Homo sapiens: one gene and its partner. The protein of the gene in region 1 interacts with the protein of each later gene in a pairwise test. Each region holds a gene or a part of one and is shown in the gene's direction. Other genes may lie near its edges.

What was found.
Region 2: the proteins of MPHOSPH9 (region 1) and SVIL interact in a two-hybrid assay, tested with the Homo sapiens proteins (one study listed by BioGRID).

The regions. Positions count from the first base shown.
Region 1 is NC_000012.12:123,157,139-123,169,725, reverse strand, and holds part of MPHOSPH9 (M-phase phosphoprotein 9), read left to right. Parts: intron 1-2,936; coding exon 2,937-3,071; intron 3,072-4,248; coding exon 4,249-4,424; intron 4,425-5,624; coding exon of another isoform or gene 5,625-5,635; coding exon 5,636-5,776; intron 5,777-6,591; coding exon 6,592-6,712; intron 6,713-7,507; coding exon 7,508-7,611; intron 7,612-8,342; coding exon 8,343-8,590; intron 8,591-8,876; coding exon 8,877-8,945; intron 8,946-12,108; coding exon of another isoform or gene 12,109-12,162; exon of another isoform or gene 12,163-12,587. UniProt on the Homo sapiens protein: Negatively regulates cilia formation by recruiting the CP110-CEP97 complex (a negative regulator of ciliogenesis) at the distal end of the mother centriole in ciliary cells.
Region 2 is NC_000010.11:29,517,680-29,530,266, reverse strand, and holds part of SVIL (supervillin), read left to right. Parts: intron 1-422; coding exon 423-562; intron 563-3,210; coding exon 3,211-3,306; intron 3,307-5,551; coding exon 5,552-5,795; intron 5,796-6,239; coding exon 6,240-6,816; intron 6,817-7,631; coding exon 7,632-7,857; intron 7,858-12,587.

The DNA.
Region 1 (12,587 bases):
TGGAGGCTGAGGCAGGAGAATTGCTTGAACCTGGTAGGCAGAGGTTGCAGTGAGCTGAGATCACGCCACTGCACTCCAGCCTGGGTGACAGAGGAAAACTCCATCTCAAGAAAAAAAAAAATTGGCAAGATCTTAGCATTTATTAAAACTGAGAATGGGTGAGTAGATGCTTGTTATAGTATTCTTTGTAATTTTCCAAGAATGTTTGAAGATTTTTTTTTTTTTTTAAGACGGAGTCTCGCTCTGTTGCCCAGGCTGAAGTGCAGTGGTGCAATCTCGGCTCACTGCAAACTCCGCCTCCTGGGCTTATGCCATTCTCCTGCCTAAGCCTCCTGAGTAGCTGGGACTACAGGTGCCCGTCACCACACCTGGCTAATTTTTATTTTGCATTTTTAGTAGAGACGGGGTTTCACCATGTTAGCCAGGGTGGTCTCGAGCTCCTGACCTCGTTATCTGCCCGCCTTGGCCTCTCAAAGTGCTAGGATTATAGGCATGAGCCACTGAGCCTGGCCCTGAAATAGTTCTTAATTTAAAAACTGGGCCGGGCGCAGTGGCTCACGCCTGTAATCCCAGCACTTTGGGAGGCCAAGGTGGGTGGATCACGAGGTCAGCAGATCAAGACCATCCTGGCTAATAACATGGTGAAACCCCATCCCTACTAAAAACACAAAAAATTAGCCGGGCGTGGTGGTGGGCGCCTGTAGTCCCAGCTACTCGGGAGTCTGAAGCAGTAGAATGGTGTGAACCCAAGAGGCAGAGCTTGCCGTGAGCCGAGATCGCGCCACTGCACTCCAGCCTGGGCGACAGAGTGAGACTCTGTCTCAAAAAAAAAAAAACTGAGGGAAAGAGTGACTGGAGTTGAAGTGAATGTAGATAGAAGAGGCAGCCTCTAAAATGTTTGGTTGTGAAAGGGGACAGAGAGAAAACAAGAGTTGTTTCATGGTTTCTGGTGTTTCTTTGAATTTGACTCAAAAGTTTCACCTGTCAACGAAGGTGGGATGGGAGGTTTGAGGAGGGTGGAAAGGGTGTGAGATAGTCATGTTTGGAGAACTGAAGCTTGCTGGTTACAGAAAGTCATGTTGCCGGCCGGGTGCGTTGGCGCACACCTGTAATCCCAGCACTTTGGGAGGCTGAGGTGGGCGGATCATGAGGTCAGGAGATCGAGACCATCCTGGCTAACACGGTGAAACCCCGTCTCTACTAAAAATACAAAAAAATTAGCCGGGCGTGGTGGCAGGCGCCTGTAGTCCCAGCTACTTGGGAGGCTGAGGCAGGAGAATCGCTTGAACCTGGGAGGCGGAGCTTGCAGTGAGCCGAGATCACGCCACCGTACTCCAGCCTGGGTGACAGAGCGAGACTCCGTCTCAAAAAAAAAAAAAAAAAAGAAAGTCATGTTGCCAGGCGGTCAGGCGGTTTGGGGTGTCCGCTTGAGGTGGTGATGAGTCTGCCCAGCTGGTGGCTTTTTTCCAGCAAAGCTCAGTGGTAGGAGTTGAGACCTGAAGCGCGGCCTTTGTAGTCAGCCAGTCCTCAGATTTTGCTGCCAGTCAGGTGTGGTGAAAGGTGAGAGAGAAAGTATCGTGAGTGTGGACTTCAGGGTAGATCAAGAGGACCTAGTCAGACTAGGAGGGGTTGATAAATGGAAAATGGAGAGGCCAAGGATCGTAGGTCACGTTGCTGAAGCTTGAGGGCGGGAGGCAGAATAGGGGCACAGTCTTTGGAGTATTGGTTTCTTAAGGGGAGTGTGTTCTCTGGTTTTGACAAAAGCCAGCAAGTACCCTCTGAGGTGGCTGGCTGAGGAGTAGAGGGTCACCTCACTGGAGAGAGTGGTCAGGAAGTTGCCTAGTGTGAGAACAGGCATAGGTGTGGAGAAAACAAGGCAGGCTCTAAAGTCTGGGGAATGACTGGGGGTTAACATGATGGTGGGAACCTCAGATGAGCTGGGGGAGCAATGTCTAGAATTGCGCTGTTCAGTACAGTCCTGCCAACAGCCACTATTACTATTTAAATCAATCATGTCAACCTAAAATCAGTGACAGAGACTGACTCTCCAAAGAAATTTATTTGGAAATGTTGGGGGTTTGCAAGCTGGAGTACGCATGCTGTGGTGAACCATAAGCATGTCCAAAGGGGTTGGGACACAGGAAACTTTAAAAGACAAAGGGCAGTCCACAGTCCACTAAGCTATTTTAAAACAAAGACCACTGGTTACAGGAGCATGTTGCAGGCATTAGCATTAGCTCAGTGGTGGAGACATCCCTTGTTAGGGATGTTTCCTTGTACAAGCAGCTTATTATCTGGAATACTGTCGTTCTGAGGAATTCAGAATAGTTCCCATAATCAGCATCTGTGTGAGAGGCTGCTCCTTTGTGCCTCCCAGCTCCATTTTTTGGGAGTTTGACATTAGTGACTCCATTTTGATACTGAAAACTTTCATTATTAAAATTAACGTTTTATAATTGGTTCTTCAGTCTCAGCAGCCACATTTCAGGTGTTCAGTAGTGACACCTGACTTGTGACTGCTGCATTGGACAGTGCAGATAGCATTTCTGGTTTTGCAGAAGATTCTGTTGGACAGTGCTGGTCTGAAGGGAACAAGAAGGGCAGCCCTGCTTCCTTCAGCACTTTACCCTCAGCTACAGTAGGGGCACAGAGTGTAAAGGGTGTGAAATGCCTGAGAGACAGTGAGGGGAATGTTCAGAGCCGCAAGTACCTGAATCTTGACTGAGATTCAGAAGTAACAGAAACCTAGAACAACAGTTAAGTTGAATCATAAAACTGTAAAATAAATTGTATCCAAAATATAGATTGTTACATGTGATTTTTAAATTAGTGTACAAATGTGTAAATACTGTTTGAGAGCAGATTGTTTTATATGCACATGCAGTCTGAAATGAAGTGCAGACCTTTATAATGCCTGACCGTTTTCATTCTAATAGCACACTAGCAACTTCAGACGTCAGCAGGCGGAAATGGCTGATTCCAGGTGCAGAGTATTCCATCTTTACTGGCCAGCCTCTGGACACCCAGGACAGTAACGTGGATAACCAGCTGGAGGAAACCTGTAGCCTAGGGTGAGATAACTTTGCTAAAGATTCTATTTAGGGATGTTATGTTTTCTTAGAGATTTCAATTGCTTTTAAAAGTTTGGGAAGCCCTCTCTTTGGTTCTTTAATGTCTTAATTTTGAGAACCTGACTTTTATTTTACTTTGAAAGGCTACTACTTTTAGAATATTTTACTTCCATGAGCTCTGCCAAGCTTCCCCACCTGTGCTCAGTGGCACAGTATGGGTTTGTGATTAGGATAGGATGTCGATCCTCAGGCCAGGTGTGGTGGCTCACGCCTGTAATCCCAACACTTTGGGAGGCCAACGTGGAGGATCGCTTGAGCCTAGGAGTTCGAGACCAGCTTGGGCAGCATGACAAAATCCCACCTCTACAAAAAATAAATATATTAGCCGGGCATGGTGACATGCGCCTGTAGTTTTAGCTACTTGGGAGGCTGAGGTGGGAGGATTACTTGAGCCTGGGGAGCTCAAGGCTACAGTGAGCTATGATTGTGCCACTGCACTCCAGCCTGGGTGACAGAGTGAGACCTTGTCTAAAAACAAACAAAAGATGTAGATCCTCTCCCACTTCAGATGGCTCTGGCCAGCCCGAGCCCCGAGCCTGCGTGAGCAGCCTCAGCCGCTTACTCCAGGGTGCTGTGCAGATGCTGTTCCTCTAAGTGTAGGACTAGAAGGATGGGAAAGCACTGTATGCAGGTTTAATTTATTTGCATTGCAAAGCATGCTCATTGTGGAGTATAATTGTCAACTCTGTTATTCCCCTAACAACCCCAGTAAAGTGTGTGTTTTAGCTTGGACTGTTATAACAAATTACCGTAGACTGGGTGGCATAAACAACACACATTTCTTTCTCTACCTCTGGAGGCTGGAAGTGCAAGATCAGGGTGCTGAGTGTTTGGTGAGGGCCCTCTTCCTGGTTATGTCCTCACATGGCCTTTCCTTGGTGTGTGTGCACAGAGAGAGCGCTCCTGCCTCTTTCCCTTTTTCATAAGGGCATTAATCCCATCTTGGAGGCTTCACCCTCATGACCTCATCCAACCCTAATTACCTCGTAAAGACCCCACCTCCACACACCATCACATTGAAGATTAGGGCTTCAACATGTATGTTTGGTGTGGGGGCGGGGGGCAAGATACAGACATTTAGTCCATAGCACTGTATGTCTTAAAATTATTGTTTAAGGCACCGTTCACCTCTGGAAAAGGATTCTTCACCTGGAAGTTCATCAACAAGCTTGTTGATAAAAAAGCAAAGAGAGACTTCAGACACGCCGATCATGAGAGCTTTAAAAGAACTTGATGAGGGAAAAATATTTAAAAATTGGGGGACACAGACAGAGAAAGAGGACACCTCAAATAGTGAGTATTTCCTTGTTTGAGATAGATGGATATAGATATCTTTTCCCCATTTATATTACCTTCGTTAAAATTAAAATATTTAGGTAATGAAATTAAAAGTTTTAGCTCTGTAAACTTGCTATTTTACTGCTACTTCAGCCCCGTTTCATAGAGAATTGAATGTCCTAGTTAATAATTTATCACAGTTCTGGCATAACATGTACCTTTTGTACAAAGCCAGTTGAATCTTACATTCCGATTATGAAAAAGGCTTACATGGCATTCTTTTTTTTTTTTTTTTTTTTTTGAGACAGTGAGACAGAGTCTCACTCTTTTGCCCAGGCTGGAGTGCAGTGCGTAATCTCAGCTCACTGCAAACTCCATCTCCAGGGTTCAAGCTATCATCCTGCCTCAGCCTCTCAAGTACCTAGAATTACAGGTGCCCTCCAGCACCCCCGGCTAATTTTAATATTTTTAACAGAGACGGAGTTTCACCATGTTGGCCAGGTTGGTCTCGAACTCCTGGCTTCAAGTGGTCCACCCGCCTTGTCCTCCACAACACAACACAAAGTGTAAACACAAAGTGTTGTGATTACAGGCGTGAACCACTGCTCCTGGCCTTACATGGCATTCCTAAGGATATTTGAAAAATTCCTGTCAGTCCATCTTACTTGCACACATCAGAAGGCTGTGATAGGCATTTGGTATTCATGAAGTGAGATATAACATTTCCTCTTCTTTCTTGGTTACTGAGCATCTGTAGATAAGGCAAGTAGTGTCTTTAATACTGTGTTTTTTCACAGGTCCAGGTCACCAATACATTTCTCTCCTTTTCCACTATGCTTGCTTTCTCAGACCCCTTAGTCATCCTGCCAGCGTCTTTGCGGTTACATCTCCCAAGCAGTGTCTCTTAGTAAATAAATTAGTAACCTGCTTTCTAAAAATAACCCTCTTGAAAATCACCTTGAATGCCGATTGTAAACAGGGAGCCAGAATGAATTCATTATAAACTCCCATATTTTTCTTCATCAAGCATTTTTTATCATTATAATGTGGTGCATTTGCAAATAGTCACTATAACCTAGCTGGTGAGAATAAATGCTTTGAGCAGAACCTAAGCTGTGGGGCTTGGTGTGTAACCATGTGTAACCACCTGTTAATAAAGGTGGATAACTGAAGCGTAGGCTTGTTTTGATTTGTTTTTTGTTTTGCTTTTTTTTGGTCTGCTGTAGTAAATCCTCGGCAAACTGAAACTTCAGTTAATGCAAGTCGTTCTCCAGAAAAGTGTGCCCAACAGAGACAAAAGAGACTTAATTCGGCCTCACAGAGATCATCATCTTTACCACCTTCAAATCGTAAATCAAGTACTCCAAGTAAGAGTTAGATGTGTACATCTCTTGGGTTCAAAAGCGTGATCTCTGAGTCAAATCTATTTGTGCCCGCTGCTTGCCTGTTTCTGGTTTCTCTTGTATCCTCAGCACCTAGTAGAGTACTCTGAGCAGAGGACCCCTAAATAAGATCTTGTTCATAAATAAAATTGTCTGATCACATAGATACTACAAATGTAAATGAAGAAATCTGTTTATTAAAGTGAGATTTTTTATTGTGTCCAGTAAATTGTTTACAACTAATACTAATAATTTATTGTGTCCACTAAATTGTTTGCAACTAATACTTAAAAATGCCAGCTATCCAAACATTAATTCAATCAAATTAATCCAAGCTAGTCTCAAATATACTTCTTATGTATTTGATCTCAAGTACTTAGCATTAGTCACCATTTTTCTTTAGCCAATAACAGGTTGGTTTTAAAGTTGAAGCATTGAATTCCTGTCCTGAATTTCCGTTTTCACACCAGCTGAGGAGATTCTTATTATTGTGTTATAGGAATGTTCAGTAGTGTACTGCTGTTTCCATCTTATTTCCAGTCGACTTCTAAAATCCTGAAAAACCAGTTTTGAGTCAGAGTGCTGAAAGTACTGTCTGATATACTACAGTGTTACAGTGGTTACCTCTAGGTGTTAGGATTATGAGTGATTTTATTTTTTTGTACACTCTTATTTCTCTCTCAAAGTTTTACGTTGAAATTATATTCCTTTCAAAATTAGAAAAAAAATACTGAATAAGAAACTGTTATGCTGATACATATAGAAGGAAAAGAATATTTCCTCTTCATTTTCTTCTATAGCAAAAAGAGAGATTATGCTAACACCAGTGACTGTGGCTTATAGTCCAAAGCGATCCCCTAAAGAAAACTTGTCCCCAGGATTTAGTCATCTGCTTAGCAAAAATGAGAGCAGTCCAATTCGGTAAGTTCTCTAAAATTGTAGAATAAAGTTTACTATATTAGTGATTTTTTTCTAAATGTTGACTTATGTCTCTAGCTATCACTAATTTTTCAGTTACCAGTGGGAACTCTGTGAATTTCATTTAAATCATAAGTGAATGTCATACTACAACTAAAGTACTGCAGTACAATGAACACAGTTTTTAACTATGTAAACTTGCTACTACTAGATTTTAAATTATCACCTCAGCACCCCTGTCAGCTTTTGTATGTAGAATGATAGTTCTTTGTTTTCCTGAAAAGGTTTATGATACGGGAAAACTTTTGGGCCATTTGTACAGGAAAGTGGGCTTTACTGGTATGGCCCTGGCACCAAATGCATGTTTACCTGTGCTGCTGAGAATCTGTCCCCTCCGAAGTGTGGGCAGCTGTGTGTGCTATTAGCGGGGAGGGATGTTGCTTCTTGGTTCCAGACCCAACTCTGTCAGGCTCTTGCGGAGATGAGTTAAGCACATTGAACCTCAGTTTCCTCTTCTATAAAACGGGGATAATAATAACTACCCTGCTTATTTCATAAGGTTTTTATAAATATCAAATGAGATAATGTATGGGTAAGTGTTTTAAGTCTTTAGTTTGTAAATACAATTTTGTTAGAAAATAGAAATAAATTTCAGTTTTAGACAATTACATAACCAGCTTTCTTTTAAGAAAATACATAAATATGTGAGTTAGCTGGATGCCAGCTCATCTTTGTAGTGGAGATAGGGAAAATCAGTTAACATTTTTTTTCTCACAAGTAACTTGCTTCATTCAATAGATTTGATATACTTTTGGATGATTTAGATACTGTTCCTGTGTCTACATTACAACGTACCAATCCAAGAAAGCAACTCCAGTTTCTTCCTCTAGATGACTCGGAAGGTATCTTTTCCTAAAAAATATTAGTTATGGTTTTAATCATTCATTTTTTGAGATTCTGGTATCTCTCAGTGTTCTAAATATTATAATATCTTGCACTTAAATATTTTCCCACTCAAGGGCGTCTGAAACTAAGCACTCATGATGCTACGTGTTGTTATGTCAATGTTGTTATCCTCATTGAAAAGTTGGGAAACTGAGGTACAGGGAATGTTGATGTTTAATTACCAGGGCCACACTGCTCAGTTATTCTCTTTACTTTTATTCTCTATATGCAGCTTAGGCTTTGGGTAACTTTTTTTTTCTCATTTATATTCTAAATTTGGAATAAAGCTATAAGACAATGTATGTGAAATCACTTGGGTAGGCCCTCAAAACATTAACTGTTTAGTGTTGGTGTATGTCCACTAAATGTGATGTATTATTTAGTTTTTAAGCTTTTTTTTTTTTTTTTGCTTTAAGTTTACTTAAAGTTCATTTATGTTTACATGAAGTTTGCTTAAGTTCATTAAGGGAAGTTGCAAAGATTGTCAAACAGAGGGCAAAGCTTTCAGAATTCTTTGGAGAAAAAAGCACTGAGTAAATAAGATTGATTATTGTATCTCTTTTCATTACTTTTTTGGGCCACATAGCAGCTATATCCAGAAAGTGAAATTGGGCAACATATTTAATATATATGCAACCTACACGAAAAATTGATAAGAAATATAAGCAATTTCTCTCCTCTCTGACAGAAAAAACTTATTCTGAGAAAGCCACCGATAACCATGTTAATCATAGCTCTTGCCCTGAACCGGTGCCAAATGGAGTGAAGAAAGTATCTGTGAGAACAGCCTGGGAGAAGAATAAATCAGTTAGCTACGAACAGTGTAAGCCGGTTTCAGTCACTCCACAGGGGAATGATTTTGAATATACAGCAAAAATTCGGACCCTAGCTGAAACAGAACGATTTTTTGATGAACTTACAAAAGAAAAGGACCAGGTAAAAACAAACAAATATTTTTAAAAATTGTTTTCTGAACTTAATGCTTATGTCTAAGGAGAAGGGAATTATTGAGTCAAACCTGTCTCAGGAAATTACAATGGGATAACATACCAGAGCTGTGCTAGCAACGGATTTGAGCCATGTGGTCGTTACTAATTGACAGAGGGAAATTAAGTTGAGATGAAATGGACAAGGAAATACTAAGCCAAAACCTTTTCTTTCCATTCTGTGTGATAAACCTCCCTGCCAGTAATTTAAACATATTTTTTTCGTGTGTTAACAGATTGAGGCAGCACTAAGCAGGATGCCTTCTCCTGGAGGACGAATCACTTTACAGACAAGATTAAATCAGGTGAAATGTCTTAGCTTGAATCTGCTTTAGAGGCTTGATGCCAGTCAGTGTTCCAGTTATCTAAGAGGGGTTTAAAAAATCATGGCACAGTGAAAATTAGACACACTGAAGCAGCAGTCAAAACTTTTAGCTTTTACGGGAAGTGTTTGATTATAGCAATTTTATAACTGCAAGCTAGCTTTCAGGAATAAAAATTGATTTTACCTTTAGACTTAGAGAAGAAGGTGTTCATGCCCTTGTATTTTCAAGAAACTAACTTGAGAGCAAATGGCAATATGCTTTTCAACAGATTTTACACTAAGTTAGTGCTCACAGATTGCCTCTCTTTTTGTTTGATTTCTCCCTCCTCAAATCTGTAATTTATTTCTGAACTCCTTTCCATTAGCAAGCAGATAAAATGGTTACACTTTGGAAACTGAATAGCTGTAGAGGTTCAAAAAGTGAGCCGTAGGCCGGGCGCAGGGGCTCACGCCTATAATCCCAGCACTTTGGGAGGCTGAGGCTGGTGTATCACCTGAGGTCAGGAGTTCCAGCCACTGTGCCCAGCCCCCAACTTCTTTTTTTCTGACTTTGTCTTTTTGTTCTGATAAATATTAGTCAATAATTTATAGGCTGGGCGTGGTGGCTCATGCCGGTAATCCCAGCACTTTGGGAGGCTGATGCAGGCGGGTCACCTGAGGTCAGGAGTTCGAGACCAGCCTGGCCCACATGGTGAAACCCCGTCTCTACTAAAGTACAAAAATTAGCCGGGCATGGTGTGGGGGTGGGCGCCTGTAATTCCAGCTACTCGGGAGGCTGAGGCAGGAGAATTGCTCGAACCTGGAAGGTGGAGGTTGCAGTGAGCCAAGATGGTGCCACTGCACTCCAGCCTGGGTAATAGAGCAAGACTCAGTCTTAAAAAAAAAAAAAAATAAACTTTCAATTGAACTTTTCATGTTATGAAATATCTTTCTATAACATCCTTTTAAATTAACGTACAATATTCCATCAGCAGTAACGTATTTAACCAAGAATGTTTTAGTAGAAATTTGGGTTGCTTCTAATTTTGGATATCATAAATAAGGCTGCAATAAAGTTCTTAAACATATCTCTTTGCACGTGTAAGTATTGCCTTAGGAGTCATTCCCAGAAATAAAAATGCTAGGTCCAAAGAAATGCAAATTTCTAAGGATTTGGATATATGTCAAGTTGTAACCCAGGATGTTTGAGACAATTTCTACTCCTACCTGCCGTGTATGAAGATAAGCTCTTCCCCATCCTGAAACCTGTATGTTTGGGAAAACAACAACAACAAAAAAAACAAAAAAAAACCTGCCATGGCCAGGCGCAATGGCTTATGCCTGTAATCCCAGCACTTTGGGAGGCCGAGGTGGGCGGATCACGAGGTCAGGAGTTCAAGACCAGCCTGGCCAACATGGCAAAACCCCATCTCTACTAAAAATACAAAAAATTAGCCAGGCGTGGTAGTGCACGCCTGCAGTCCTAGCTACTCGGGAGGCTGAGGCATGAGAATCGCTTGAACCTGGGTGGTGGAGGTTGCATTGAGCTGAGATCGTGCCACTGCACTCGGCCTGGGTGACAGAGCAAGACTCCGTCTCTGAAAAAGAATAATAAAAAAAAATACCTGCCAATGTGATCATTTTTTAAAAGGTGTGGGGTTGTCTTGGCTAATCTTTTATTTATCTAGTTTGGAGACGGAGTCTCGCTGTGTCACCAGGCTGGAGCGCAGTGACGCAATCTCGGCTCACTGCAGCCTCCAACTCCCTGGTTCAACTGATTCTCCTGCCTCAGCCTCCTGAGTAGCTGGGATTACAGGCACATGGGCCCGGCCTAATTCAAAGATATTTTGAGGCCGAGAACAGTGGCTCATGCCTGTAATCTCAGCACTTTGGGAGGCCAAGGTGGGCAGATCACTTGAGGTCAGGAGTTTGAGGCCGGCCTGGCCGATGTGGTGAAACCCTGTCTCTACTAAAAATACAAAAAAATTAGCCGGTTGTGGTGGTGTGCCTGCAATCTCAGCTACTTGGAGGCTGAGGCAGGAGGTTCACTTGAACCCAAGAGTTGGAGGTTGCAGTGAGCTGAGATTGCACCACTGCACTCCAGTCAGGGCAACAGAGTGAGACTGTGTCTCAAAAAAAAAAAAATTGAGATAGAGTTTGATTCTCTTCTTAGGTTTCTCTTTTAATTTTTTTGAGACAGGGTCTCATTCTGTCACTCAGGCTGGAGTGCATTGGCACAATCATAGCTCACTGTAGTCTTGACCTCTGAGGCCTCAGCCCCTTGAGTAAGCTAGGACTACAGGCATGCACCACCACACCTGGCTAATTTTTAAAATTTTTTTGTAGAGGCAGGGCCTTGCAGTGTTGCCCAGGGTGGTCTCGAACTCCTGGCCACAAGTGATTCTCCCACCTTGGTCTCCCAAAGTGCTGGGATTACAGGTGTAAGCCATCATGCTTGGCCTTATTTTTCTTTTAAAAATGATACACGGCTGGGTGCAGTGGTTCACGCCTGTAATCCCAGCACTTTGGGAGGCTGAGGTGGGCAGATCAGATCACCTGCAGTCAGGAGTTCAAGACCAGCTTGGCCAATATGGCGAAACCCTGTCTCTACTAAAAATATGAAAATGAGCCGGGCATGGTGGTGGGCACCTGTAATCCCAGCTACTTTTGAGGCTGAGGGAGGAGAATCGCTTGAACCTGGGAGGCAGAGGTTGCAGTGAGCTGAGATTGTGCCACTGCACTCCAGTCTGGGCAACAGAGCGAGACTCCGTCTCCCCCAACCAAAAAAAAAAAAATAAAATAAAAGTGGTATGCATATATATGTATGCAGAAAAAACAGGAAAGAGGAACAGTTTTTTTTTCTTTTTTGCTTATTTGTCTTCTAAATTTTCTATATTCTAAGTGTTCTATAATCCTTTTATAATTAAAGAAAAAAATTTTAAGTTTTATTTCAGGACACCATTGGAATTAATACTGAATAAATTAACTAAAATGAGGCTGGGTATAGTGGCTTATGCCTATAATCCCAGCACTTTGGGAGGCCGAGGTGGGTGGATCACTTGAGGCCAGGAGTTCGAGACCAGCCTGGGTGACATAGTGAGATCTTGTCTCTGCAAAAAAAAAAATGTTTAAAATCAGCCAGGTGTGGTGGTGCCTGCCTGTAGTTTCAGATACTCGAGAGGCTAAGGTGGAAGGATTGCTTGAGTCCAGGAGTTTGAGGCTGCAGTAAGCTATGATCATGCCATTGCAGTTCAGCTTTGGGTGACAGAGCAAGACCCTGTCTCAACAAAAACACAGAAGTATGTATAATGATATATAGTCCAGGTATTATTTAACAGTAATATTGTTTATTTTAAAATAGCAATTGTTAATTCATTGTGAAATCTATTTTTTTTTTTAAGAAAAGTATCCTTCAGTGTTTTTTTTTTTTCCTTTTTAACTTAGAAATTTTGGTGAGAAGAAAGTTATTTGATCTATGTATGTGTGGGATGCAGCACTGATCAAATGTGTCCATTTCTTCTGGTGAAATGTGTGAAGCACCTCCTAGGCTCCTCTTGTACTGTTCTCACTTCAGCAGAGCCAAAGAATTATCCTCTTCCAGTTGGTTGTATTGCTATTACTAGAATTTCCATATACTCAATGT
Region 2 (12,587 bases), on another chromosome or scaffold:
CTCCTGTAGGTCCTGTAGGAGAACAAAGTGAAGAATTTTTACTACCCCCATTTCCTTTCCTTGAATTTCTTTGTTATTTTTAATTTTTTTTTAGAGATAGGGTCTCACTCTCTCACTCAGGGTTGAGTGCAGCAATGTGATCATAGCTCACTGCAGCCTCAACTTCCCAGGCTCAAGTGATGTTCCCACCTCAGCCTCCCAAGTAGCTGGGACTACAGGCCTGTGCCAGCATGCCTGGCTAATTTATGCATTTTTTGTAGAGATGAGGGGGTCTCACTTTGTTGCCCAGGCTGGTCTTGAACTCTTGGCCTCCAGCAATCTTCCCTCCTTAGCCTCCCAAAGTGCTGGGATTACAGGCGTGAGCCACCGTGCCCAGCTCTTTCCTTGAATTTATAAGGGTTCCACAATACTTCTAATCTTAGGAGATGGAAAAATCTTTTGATGAACAAAATGTTCCAAAGCGACGCTCAAGAAACACAGCTGTGGAGCAGAGGCTACGCCGTCTGCAGGACAGGTCCCTCACCCAGCCCATCACCACTGAAGAGGTGGTCATCGCAGCCACGTAAGTGCCCACAGGACTTCTCAGCCTTGTCTATAGTGTCTTTTTTTAAAAAAATACATTTAAAGAGTGTTCAATGAAAATGAGGCATTGGGGAGGTGATTTAGCTAGAAGCCACAGAGAAGTTAGTACTAAGGGATTTTGTTTACTGTGGTCTCTCTAAACTTTGTAATGGGATGTGTATCTTCTAGAAAAACTTGAAAGGAGTTTTTGTTCTATTTTGTTTCTGTCTCTGCATATTGATATTTTAAAAATCTCTTTGACAACGGAAAATAGAAACATGAAACTTGGTGGATTGCTGTGATGAAACCCCAGCTTCCACGGTCACCCGCTCCTGGCCGGTGATGCTCAGCCCGTGTGCCATTCATTTCCCCTTTCCTCCTGTGCTATTTTCAAGCAAACACTAGAGGTCTTACCATTTCATCCATAAATATCCCAGTACGCCCCTCTAAAAGATAAGGTTTGTTTTGTTCTTAATTGCCAGAAATCTCTTTTCTTTTTTTCTTTTTTTTTTTTTTTTTTTTTTTTTTTTGAGAGAGAGTCTTGCTCTGTCACCCAGAACGGAGTGCAGTGGCATGATCTCGGCTCACTGCAACCTCCGCCTCCTGGGTTCAAGCGATTCTCCTGCCTCCACCTCCCGAGTAGTTGGGATTACAGGCATGTGCCACCACACTCAGCTAATTTTTGTATTTTTAGTAGAGACGGGGTTTCACCATGTTGGCCAGGCTGGTCTCAAACTCCTGACCTCAGGTGATCCATGCCTCAGCCTCCCAAAGTGCTGGGATTAATTGCCAGAAATTTCTAAAAATTAAATTGCAGTTTGATAACTTTCCAAACAATAGGAAGTTTGTTTTGAATAATATGTTTCAATATATTCAGAATTAATTTCCCAGAGTAGTTCATTCAGAGATCATTGCTTCAATCAAGTGAAAAATTTTCTTATTTTTGCGGGGGGCATTGTTTGTTTTTTTGAGGCAGTGTCTCACTCTGTTACTCAGGCTGGAATGCAGTGCGCCATCTTGGCTCATTACAGCCTCAACCTCCTGGGCTCAATTGACCCTCCAACCTCAGCCTCCCAAGTAGTTGGGACTGTAGGCCCAACCACCACACCTGGCTAATTTTTGTATTTTTTGTGGTGATGGGGTTTTGCCATGTTGCCCAGTCTGATCTTAAACTCCTGGGCTCAAGCGATCCTCCCACCTCAGCCTCCCAAAGTGCTGGAGCTACAGGCGTGAGCCACTGTACCCAGCCTAGTTTTGTTGTTGTTGATGTTGTTAATTGGTTTTGTGCTTACCTTGGACACACAGACACCCTTCCTGGAAAAAAAAATAGTTCATCCCATTAGGTTATTGACATCCCAAAAGGCCTCTATGTCAGTGCCCCGTTCTGTAGACCTGCTGTTAGATCAGCTGCCTACAGTTCCTCCCCGAGTTGTTCCTCAGTTTCTTGGTGCATTTGTAGCTAAGTATATCCTTGCACTCATTAGGAACTCTTTGCAAATCAGTTTGTTTTTTAAAAAAAGAAATATTTGAATGGCTGGTGTAAAATAACAGGCAGATACCCATGGGAGCAAAACAGTAAATATAAGAAAAATTAATCCCATTTTAAGGCTCAATAAATCTACCTTGATGTGCCTATAGATTGTATAAGAACACTGATACTTTTAAAAAGTAGATTGAGGCCGGGTGCAGTGGCTCACACCTGTAATCCCAGCACTTAGGGAGGCAGAGGTGGGTGGATCACCTGAAGTCAGGAGTTCAAGACCAGCCTGGCCAACATGGTGAAACCCCGTCCCTACTAAAAAATACAAAAATATTGGCCAGGCATGGTGGCGCACGCCTGTAATCCCAGCTACTCGGGAGGCTGAGGCAGGAGAAATGCTTAAACCCAGGAGGTGGAGGCTGCAGTGAGCCGAGATCGCGCCACTGCATTCCAGCCTGGGCGACAGAGTGAGACTCTGTCAAAAAAAAAAAAAAAAAAAAAGGCTGGGCCCAGTGGCTTACACCTGTAATCCCAGCACTTTGGGAGGCTGAGGCAGGTGGATCACGAGGTCAAGAGATCAAGACCATCCTGGCCAACATGGTGAAACCTCATCTCTAATAAAAATACAAAAATTAACTGGGCGTGGTGGTGCGCGCCTGTAATCCCAGCTACTCAGGAGGCTGAGGCAGGAGAATCACTTGACCCCGGGAGGCGGAGTTTGCAGTGAGCCAAGATCATGCCACTGCACTCCAGCCTGGTGACAGAGACAGACTCCATCTCCAAAAAAGAAAAAGAAAGAAAAAAATTAGATTGGAAACAATATTCTAAAACACAGACATAATCTACTGATTTTTTGATAGCTAATATTTGCTTTTTTGAATTATTATTTTTTTTACACCAAGACATGTATTCTCAAGACAGAGTAAATCCTCCCAGCTCTGAACACCTATTCTTACCCCATTTGCTTTGGGTAGCCACTATCTCTTATTTCCTGAGTTTGTATTTGCTTTTGAAGTTCTTTCGTGATTTTTTCTCCCCAAAAATAATTAGCAAAATATTCTGTTAAAATTTTTGATTTAACGTTTCTGAATTTAAAACTATGCTGTCCTTAATGCTTCTTTTCTTCTCTCTCCTTATGAATGTTTCCTCTTTGGCAATTGCTTTTAAAGTGAACCTATCCCCGCTTCGTGTTCTGGGGGCACCCACCCTGTAATGGCGAGACTTCCTAGCCCCACTGTAGCTAGGAGCGCTGTGCAGCCTGCCAGGTACTGGACAGATACAGATGCATGCGGCACCCGGTGCAAAGGTGCCGAACAGCAGATGCATCCTAAAGTCTTGAATGTCTGTCGTTTGTTTGACAAACAAGTCAATGCCGTGAGTTGTTCCAGAATGCGTGGCATTTTGTTTTGTCATAGCACAAGGTGCTGATAACCACATGCTGGCGTGCGTGGGAAAACATTTTGTCTCTCTGCATATGTTATGTGTTAGAACTAGGATCACACTAACTCACGTATCCAGTTGCTTTGTTTGTTTTTCATAATAATGGTCATCCCTCAAAAATTTTGTTCTTCATCTAAATACTGTTATAGCACTTAATAAAGATTAATAGAAAAATGGGACATTGGCCAGGCGCGGTGGCTCATGCCTGTAATCCCAGCACTTTGAGAGGCCAAGGCAGGTGGATCACGAGGTCAGGAGATTGAGACCGTCCTGGCCAACATGGTGAAACCCTGTCTCTACTAAAAATACAAAAATTAGCTGGGCATGGTGGCATGTGCCAGTAATCCTAGCTACTTGGGAGACTGAGGCAGGAGAATCGCTTGAACCTGGGAGGCAGAGGTTGCAGTGAGTCAAGATCGTGCCACTGCACTCCCGCCTGGTGACAGAGCAAGACTCTGTCTCAAAAAAAAAAAAAAAAAAGAAAGAGAAAAAAAGAAAGAAAAAAAAAGAAAAATGAGACATTAACCTGAATGTTGAAATGCTGATAAGACCCAGTCTTTTTCAAACACCTGTAGACACAAATACAGACTGAAAACAATCCTCCCTCTTTCTAATTTATAGAGTCAATGCCATTATATTTTGGGACTGGGAAAATAACAATTTGTAGTGTCTAAACGTAGATGTTTTACTGTCGTGTTTCAGATTGTGGTGCTTTAAAATTATGTCCTCACATCAGGTCATATCCCTTCATTTTACTGTTATATGAGCCAAACCGCAAAAGCTAAAAATAATGGCAGTGCCGGGATAAAGCTGGTACACCCACAGCAGGGCCCTCCCGGAGAAGTGGGTTTCCCTGCCCTCCTGGTTACTGCACGAGGTCCACGGAGGACTCTGAGGCTCAGGTGGCTTTTTTGTCACTGGCCTCATTATACACCTGGAATATGGAAGCTGGCTACTCTTTGGCCTGGGATAGCCTGTGCATTGGGGATTCACTAGAATCAAGGCAGAATATCTCCTTTACTAGATCTGACAATTGGATCGGTCAGGGACAGAAGATATAGTGCATTACAAACCCCTAGAGATTCATATTGACCGTGAAGACTTCAGGCTTTCCTTCTCTTCTAGCTGGAAGTTGGAGGGAGCTATTTATTTATTTACTGATTTATGTATTCATTCATTTATTTTTGAGACAGAGTCTTGCTCTGTCGCCCAGGCTTCATCACTGCACACTGCAGCCTCTACCTCACAGGCTCAAGCGATCCTCCCACCTCAGCCTCCTGAGTAGCTGGGATCACAGGTGCACACCACCAAGCCTGGCTAATTTTTATATTTTTTGTAGAGATGGGGTTTCACGATGTTGCCCAGGCTAGTCTCCAACTCCTAAATTCAAGTGATCCTCTTGCCTTGGCCTTCCATAGATATGAGCCACCAGACCTGGCCAGTTGGAGGGATTTATAATCACCTGAAATTTTCTTTACTCCTCTGGTTACTGGAAATTGCAGATTTAAGTACCTTTTAGAAAACTGGTAGGAACCTATGAGAGTAAATGCTAAGCTGAAGCAGTGACTCTTTAAAAATTAAGCCATTTGTCTTTAGCAAGTAAAAATCAAGACCTTCTGTTATGTTGTTGACAGAGGACTATATCGTTTCCTAATTATTTAAAATGAAAGACCACCTTCTGAACCATATCTTTAGATAAGGTCTAAATACACCGTAGGTAATACTTTGTGACTCCCTTTCATTCTACTTATTACGATACTAACAATGCCGCCTCTCTGTCTAAGATAAGGTATAGCCAAGCTGACTTCAATGTCTTAAACAGGAAATTCGTTTTGTAGAAATAATTCGGAGCTCAAAGTCTGCTCTTTGTAGAAGTGATGATGCTAAGTGTCCTGTGCCGACTCTGCTTGTTGAGTAGCTGAACAGCTGCCTGCCTCTGTCCTAGACGTGCTTAGGGAAAAAGAAGCCCTTTGCAAAATGATGTGACACTTGGCAGAAAGTTAACGTAGAAACTTAGCGGTGTGCTTTTGTTTGTTGGTATATGTGTTGCTGACATTTTATTTTTTTCAGATTGCAGGCCTCTGCTCACCAAAAGGCCTTAGCCAAGGACCAGACAAATGAGGGCAAAGAGCTTGCTGAGCAAGGAGAACCTGATTCCTCCACTCTAAGCTTGGCCGAAAAGTTGGCCTTGTTTAACAAATTGTCCCAGCCAGTCTCAAAAGCGATTTCTACCCGGAACAGAATAGACACGAGACAGAGGAGAATGAACGCTCGCTATCAAACTCAGCCAGTCACACTGGGAGAGGTGGAGCAGGTGGGTGTGCTATAGTCCGATTGCAGTTTGTGTGTGTGTGTTCTTAAATTATAGCACTGCAGTATTCCTCTGAGGTCAATGATGTAATTAAGGTGCTCTACCAGGAAACTGCTACCTGTAGGTGATTTGGTAATAGCTTTCTTCCTAAAAATGAGAATTCTACCAAGTATGTTGCTCTTTTTTTGTTTTCATACCTTGCTTGCTGAAATATCTAGAATGAGTCCATTTTGGAGAGAAAAAAATAGTATGCCCAACTGTGTTTCACCCAGAGGATTTTGTTTAATGAGACGTATTATATAACTATGTCCAGGAATGGTTTTCCACTAAGAGAAACAGTGAAACTGCATCAAATCGAGTATTTCAGCTTCTGTCAATTCATAAACCAGGATTTATATAGATGATATTTTTCAAGCAGCTTTTTAATTTTTAACTGTGTCCTTCCAGGTGCAGAGTGGAAAGCTCATTCCTTTCTCACCTGCCGTGAACACATCAGTGTCTACCGTAGCATCCACGGTTGCTCCAATGTATGCCGGAGATCTTCGCACAAAGCCACCTCTTGACCACAATGCAAGTGCCACTGACTATAAGTTTTCTTCTTCAATAGAAAATTCGGACTCTCCAGTTAGAAGCATTCTGAAATCGCAAGCTTGGCAGCCTTTGGTAGAGGGTAGCGAGAACAAGGGAATGTTGAGAGAATATGGAGAGACAGAAAGCAAGAGAGCTTTGACAGGTCGAGACAGTGGGATGGAGAAGTATGGGTCCTTTGAGGAAGCAGAAGCATCCTACCCCATCCTGAACCGAGCCAGGGAAGGAGACAGCCATAAGGAATCTAAATATGCTGTTCCCAGAAGAGGAAGCCTGGAACGGGCGAACCCTCCCATCACCCACCTCGGGGATGAACCGAAGGAATTTTCCATGGCTAAAATGAATGCACAAGGAAACTTGGACTTGAGGGACAGGCTGCCCTTTGAAGAGAAGGTGGAGGTGGAGAATGTTATGAAAAGGAAGTTTTCACTAAGAGGTAAGTGACCAGTGCCCCTAAAGCTTTAGAAAGCCACTGGGTTTTAGTTTCTGCTTGATTTGTCCTGTGTCTATGATGGCTTTTAACAAAGTTCTATAGGCAGTTTACAGCTAGTATTGGTTAAAAGTTCAGCGGGAATCCTATTCTTCCCTGGATCTGACTAGAGGATACATCAAGTTTTCAGCAATAAAACTACTGGAAGAGCTTTCACACATCTTCATGGAGTTTCTGTTGACTTTGGTCACTCACACAATGGCCTTCTGAGCTGCTTAGTTCTGGTGGCCCCTTTTAGAAATTGATGACCCCAAAGGTCCAGGCTGGGTAAGCACAAGGAATTCAGGAAAGACTTGACCCCAGTCTCTGAATCGCTAGAGTGCTTCTTCCTGCATGCCTGTTTTGCAGGCTAGCAAGCTACACTGCGTGGGCCCTTCATCCTCTTTCTACGTTTGTATGAAACAGTACAGTGTAAGTTATAATAGGGGTTTGCGTTTGTGAGTATAGCACATTTGAATGTTAAGGTATTATTTTGGAGAATAGAACCATTCTGGAGTAAATAGTTAAAGCTGACTTCCTGTGTCTCGCACACAGGAGAGAAACCAATTGCCACGAAGCATTTTGCTGTGTGGGTAACCCTCCAGGAAGTTTGGTTTTCTCACAGAGTGTAGCGTGCTGCAGATTTGCATAAATCCCAGTGGATTGGGTCACCCGCCGTGTGCCCACGGATTGAACCCTGAGAGCTGCACTGTTGAGGGCGAATCGCTGGAAGAATGTTTGCCTGAGGAGTTCAGTGCTGATGTTGCTCTTTTCCTTCCCAGCGGCAGAGTTCGGGGAGCCCACTTCCGAGCAGACGGGGACAGCTGCTGGGAAAACTATTGCTCAAACCACAGCCCCCGTGTCCTGGAAGCCCCAGGATTCTTCGGAACAGCCACAGGAGAAGCTCTGCAAGAATCCATGTGCGATGTTTGCTGCTGGAGAGATCAAAACGCCGACAGGGGAGGGCCTTCTTGACTCACCCAGCAAAACCATGTCTATTAAAGAAAGGTAATGAGATTCGGTGAGCGAAAAGTAATTCTCTCGGGGAGGAGCTTACAGCTTGCTTTTAGAAAACAATCTCGGTGATGGGCAAAGAGATGAAATCATACATTCAGCTTCTAACAGGACTGTGCTGTTGTCCTGGAGTAATTCTAGGAAGCTGAGGTGTTTGAGAGTGAACTGCCTTTGCTCATGAGCCTGGTTTGGTAATGAGCCTGGTTTGGACAGGGCTGGTTCCAGACTCAGATGAGAAAACAAACAGAAACAGACTTCTGTTTTATTTATTTGTTTCCACTGTCCCAATATCTTTTATAATATTAAATTCTTGGACTATCTAATGACAGGAGCTGAAATCTTGGCTCTTCCCCTTTTAGATACACAGGGTTCATACTGAATGCACAAACCACTTGTGACTTTGTGTAAAATATGTGTAGAGGGAGTGAAGATAAATTTACATAGAGGGCATATATCTTTGGACTTAGAATCCAAGTTTTGTTTCTTTTACAGATTGTAAAATGGATGACTTTTCTGAACTGCATTTAGAAATTGTATGTCAGGTAATAGCTTGAAAGATTGCATTTCAGCATCAAATAACACAGTAGCCTAATTTCTTTCAAAAGAATGACGTAGGGTGCAGAGGAATATATTTAAATTAGACAGATACAGAGAACTGGAAGTAAATTACCTTGGGGATGTGTTTTCCTTGTTAACCCTTAACCACAGATGAATTAAGCAGCAAAAGATGCAATAGTGGGAATAAATTCAGAGTTTGATAGCAGAGTAGGGTGACTAAATAAAAACGTATTGTACTGAGGTGATGGACATTCTAAATAGAGGCTTGATCACTATGCATTTTATATGTGTAACAAAATTTCTCATGCACCACATAAATTTGTACAAAAAAAGGAGAAAGTATTCAGTAGGAAAAAAACATGATGGAATAGTTGATAGGAAAACTGGGTGAAGAAAAATCTTGTCAACTCCATATTAGGAGAACCATTTCCATCGCCTGTTCCCACAGTTCTGCCAACCTCCACCCTTCCTCAGCACCTCCCACCACACGGAAGTCTGCAGGCTTCACTGACCACTCTTATTTTTCTAGATACATTTCAAACTGCCTAAGACTATACTAAACCACAATGAAAAGTCTTCTTTCTTTCTTTTCCTTCTTTCCTTTTTTTTTTTTTTTTCTTTTTGAGACTAAGTCTTGCTTTGTCACCCAGGCTGGAGTGCAATGGGATGATCTTGGCTTACTGCAACCTCTGCCTCCCGGGTTCAAGCGATTCTCCTGCCTCAGCCTCCCAAGTGGCTGGGACTACAGACGCACACCACCACACCCAGCTAATTTTTTGTATTTTTAGTAGAGTTGGGGCTTCACCGTGTTAGCTAGGATGATCTCGATCTCCTGACCTCCTGATCCGCCTGCCTCGGCCTCCCAAAGTGCTGGGATTACAGGCGTGAGCCACCGTGCCTGGCCCCTTCTTTCTTTTTTTTTTTTTTTAGAGGAATGGTCTTCCTCTGTTGCCCAGACTAGAGTGCAATGGTGCTGTCACAGCTTCACTGCAGCCTCGAACTCCTGGACACAAGTGATCCTCCTGCCTCGGCCTCCCCAGTAGCTGGGACTGCAGACACGTACCACCATGCCTGGCTAATTTTTTCAAAAAGATTTTTTGTAGAGTTGGGAGGTCTCACCATGTTGCCCAGGCTGGTCTCGAACTCCTGGCCTCAAACAGTCCTCCCACCTCAGCCTTCCAAAGTGCGGGGATTACAGACATGCACCACCACACCTGGCCCTTCTTTCTAGTTTTAAGCCAAGCTTCTTGAACATTATTTGTAAAATAATAGATGCTATCTTTTTCAACTGACAAATTAATCACATTGTTAAATCTGACTTACTTTCTCCTTTACTTACTTAAAATTCATGATAAGTTAGACCTGGCAGGCTGAGGGGCATAGGGAAGGGGCAGAGGGGACAGTGCAATGAGGAGAGGGATGTCTTCAATCGGGGAAGCAGTTGGGCCTATTGAGGCTTGAAGTTCTCTTCCACGAAAATGGGGCTCAAAGAGAGTTTCATCCCAGAAACCCAAATATTGACAACTGGTTAGGTGAGGAAGAAGAGAGATCATTTAAGGAAATTAACAATAAATATCACTTATACACAAGTTCTGATGTTTTACACATGAGAAAATATCCCTGGGGTATTCCCCAGTGGGAAATACTAATATTATGCCCCCTTCTTTCAAAGGCTTTTAAAGGAGCCTTCCCATCTTTGGGAATATTCTGTCCATCTGGACTTAGGACTTTTGATGAAGAAGTCCTGTGTCTATCCACTAAGCAATAATTCCTGATTTACTTACCTGTTTTTTGGTAAATTTTAGTTGACCTGTATTTTTCTGAAAGCTTTAATCCTACTGTAAAATTCTCATTTTTAAAAGTGAGATACTGGAAAGACGTAGCTTCTTAGCTTGGGCTTTGTGGACATGTAAGGCGTTCAAGGATGGCTGTAAAGTTTCTGTGAACAGCCCGGAAGTGTATTCAGAATTGAATGGGTGAGCACACACACCTGCTGGCTAACAGAAGCCATAACTTATCATGGTCTCCAAGAGATCCCTGAGCCCAGTCTGTTCAGAATCATGATAGAAAGGAATGCTTGATTGATATTCAGCTATTCAGTTTGTTAAAATACATTTATGAAAGAACAAGGGACACTTTATTTAGCAGCTATGCTTGTAATAAATTACACTAATGCAAAATATATTGCCAGTGATCTTTTCCCCCTTACCTTCACAGTACTTTTATTTGTACTTTGCTGAAAGTGACTAAATTACATATATTTACAATTCATCCATGATAGCTTTTCCATGAGACTTTAATCCCTCCCTTTTGTGAAAATGAAATAATGAAGCTTAAACTATTTAAAATAAGAATGTTATTCCTCCATTTATTTGGGCTTTACTTTTCCTTCTTGAGAAAGAAATATATAAAATCATAGGACTTCCAAACTTTATTCTAACCGCCTCTGACTGCCTCATTTTACCAAAGGAGGGATTCGGCTCCGGTAGCCTCCAGGGCCACGTAGTGAATAGAGCTGACCCAGGGGCCACGTCTCCAACTCTCCCCTGGTCCATGGTGAGACCGCGGTGCGCTCAGATTAGTGTTAGAGCAGCCAACCCCGTGTGCTCTAACCAGGAGAATACGGTGAGAGGACAGAAATCCCAGCTAGACAGCAGTGTTAGAAAGACACACCTTCTTTCTTCATGAATTTTCTCAGTTCACATGCTCTTAACAGGGCTTATATTTCAAATTACACATCCAAGTTCACATTTCAGAGTCTCAGAAATAGAGTCTGGAATTTGCAGATTTCCTTCATCGTTTTTTATAAATGCCTGTCCCCACTAAGGAGGGCAGGTCTGTCTTCTTCAGCCTTGTTGTGTCAGTCTCTCCCCTGTCCAGGGCCTGACTATATTAAGTTCTCAGTGCTCAGTGCTACCCAGCGTCACAGACTGCCTTCCACATTTTGTACATGATCTCTCATTTAATTTTTGTCTGTTTGTTTGTTTTTTGAGATGGAGTCTCGCTCTGTCACCCAGGCTGGAGTGCAGAGGCACGATCGCGGCTCACTACAACCTCCGCCTCCCAGGTTCAAGTGATTCTCCTGCCTCACCCTCCTGAGTAGCTGGGATCACAGGAGCCCACCACCATAACCAGCTAATTTTTGCATTTTTAGTAGAGGCGGGGCTTCACCATGTTGGCTACGCTGGTGTCGAATGCCTGACCTCAGGTGATCTGCCTGCCTCAGCCTCCCAAAGTGTTGGGATTACAGGCGTGAGCCACTGCGCCCGGCTTTCATTTAATATTGAAGACAGCCTCCAGAAGAAAGCAATATTATCCCCATTTGTAGACAAAAAGCATAGAAACTAAGAAATTATAGGAAAACCTCCATACACTCCTTTTTTAGAATATGTTTGATGCTCAAGGAAACATATTAAAAAGTTATTTTTATATTTATTTATTTATTTGTTTATTTTCTGAGACAAGAGTCTCACTCTGTAGCCCACGCTGGAGTGCAGTGACACGATCTTGGCTCACTGAAGCCTCCCCCTCCTGGGTTCAAGCGATTCTCCTGCCTCAGCCTCCCAAGTAGCTGGAATTACAAGCACTTACTACCATGCCTGGCTAATTTTTGTATTTTTAGTAGAGACAAGGTTTCACCATATTGGCCAGGCTGGTGTCAAACTCCTGACCTCCAGTGATCCACCCGTCTAGGCCTCCCAACGTGCTGGGATTGCAGACGTGATCACCACACCCAGCCTTAAAAAAATTTTTTTTCATCTTTTCTGACATTGTGAATGTCAAATTTGAACCATAACCAGCAAAAAACTTAGGATGCAATCGACTTTTCCCACCGGATTAGTAAAATTGCTATTTTCTGACTGTCCAAATGATGTGTGTTTAAATTATCCCTGTTTGGGAACTTCTTTGAGAAACATTGCGAATTAAATAATTCTTATGTTATTTAGGGATAAAACCTTTGCTATTGCTTAAAGAGTATGTTAGGCCTTTAGAAATCTTATTTCCACAATGTCAGAAACAGTGGCATCTGAGCTTTCTTATTTAGGGAAAAAGACTATTGAAAAGAAAAAAAGAGCCATCCTTTCACTTTGGCAAATTGGTGGCATGTAAGGACTTAGTGGAACTCCCTGAACTGTTGCAGAATCCACCTCACGCCTCTATGGTGT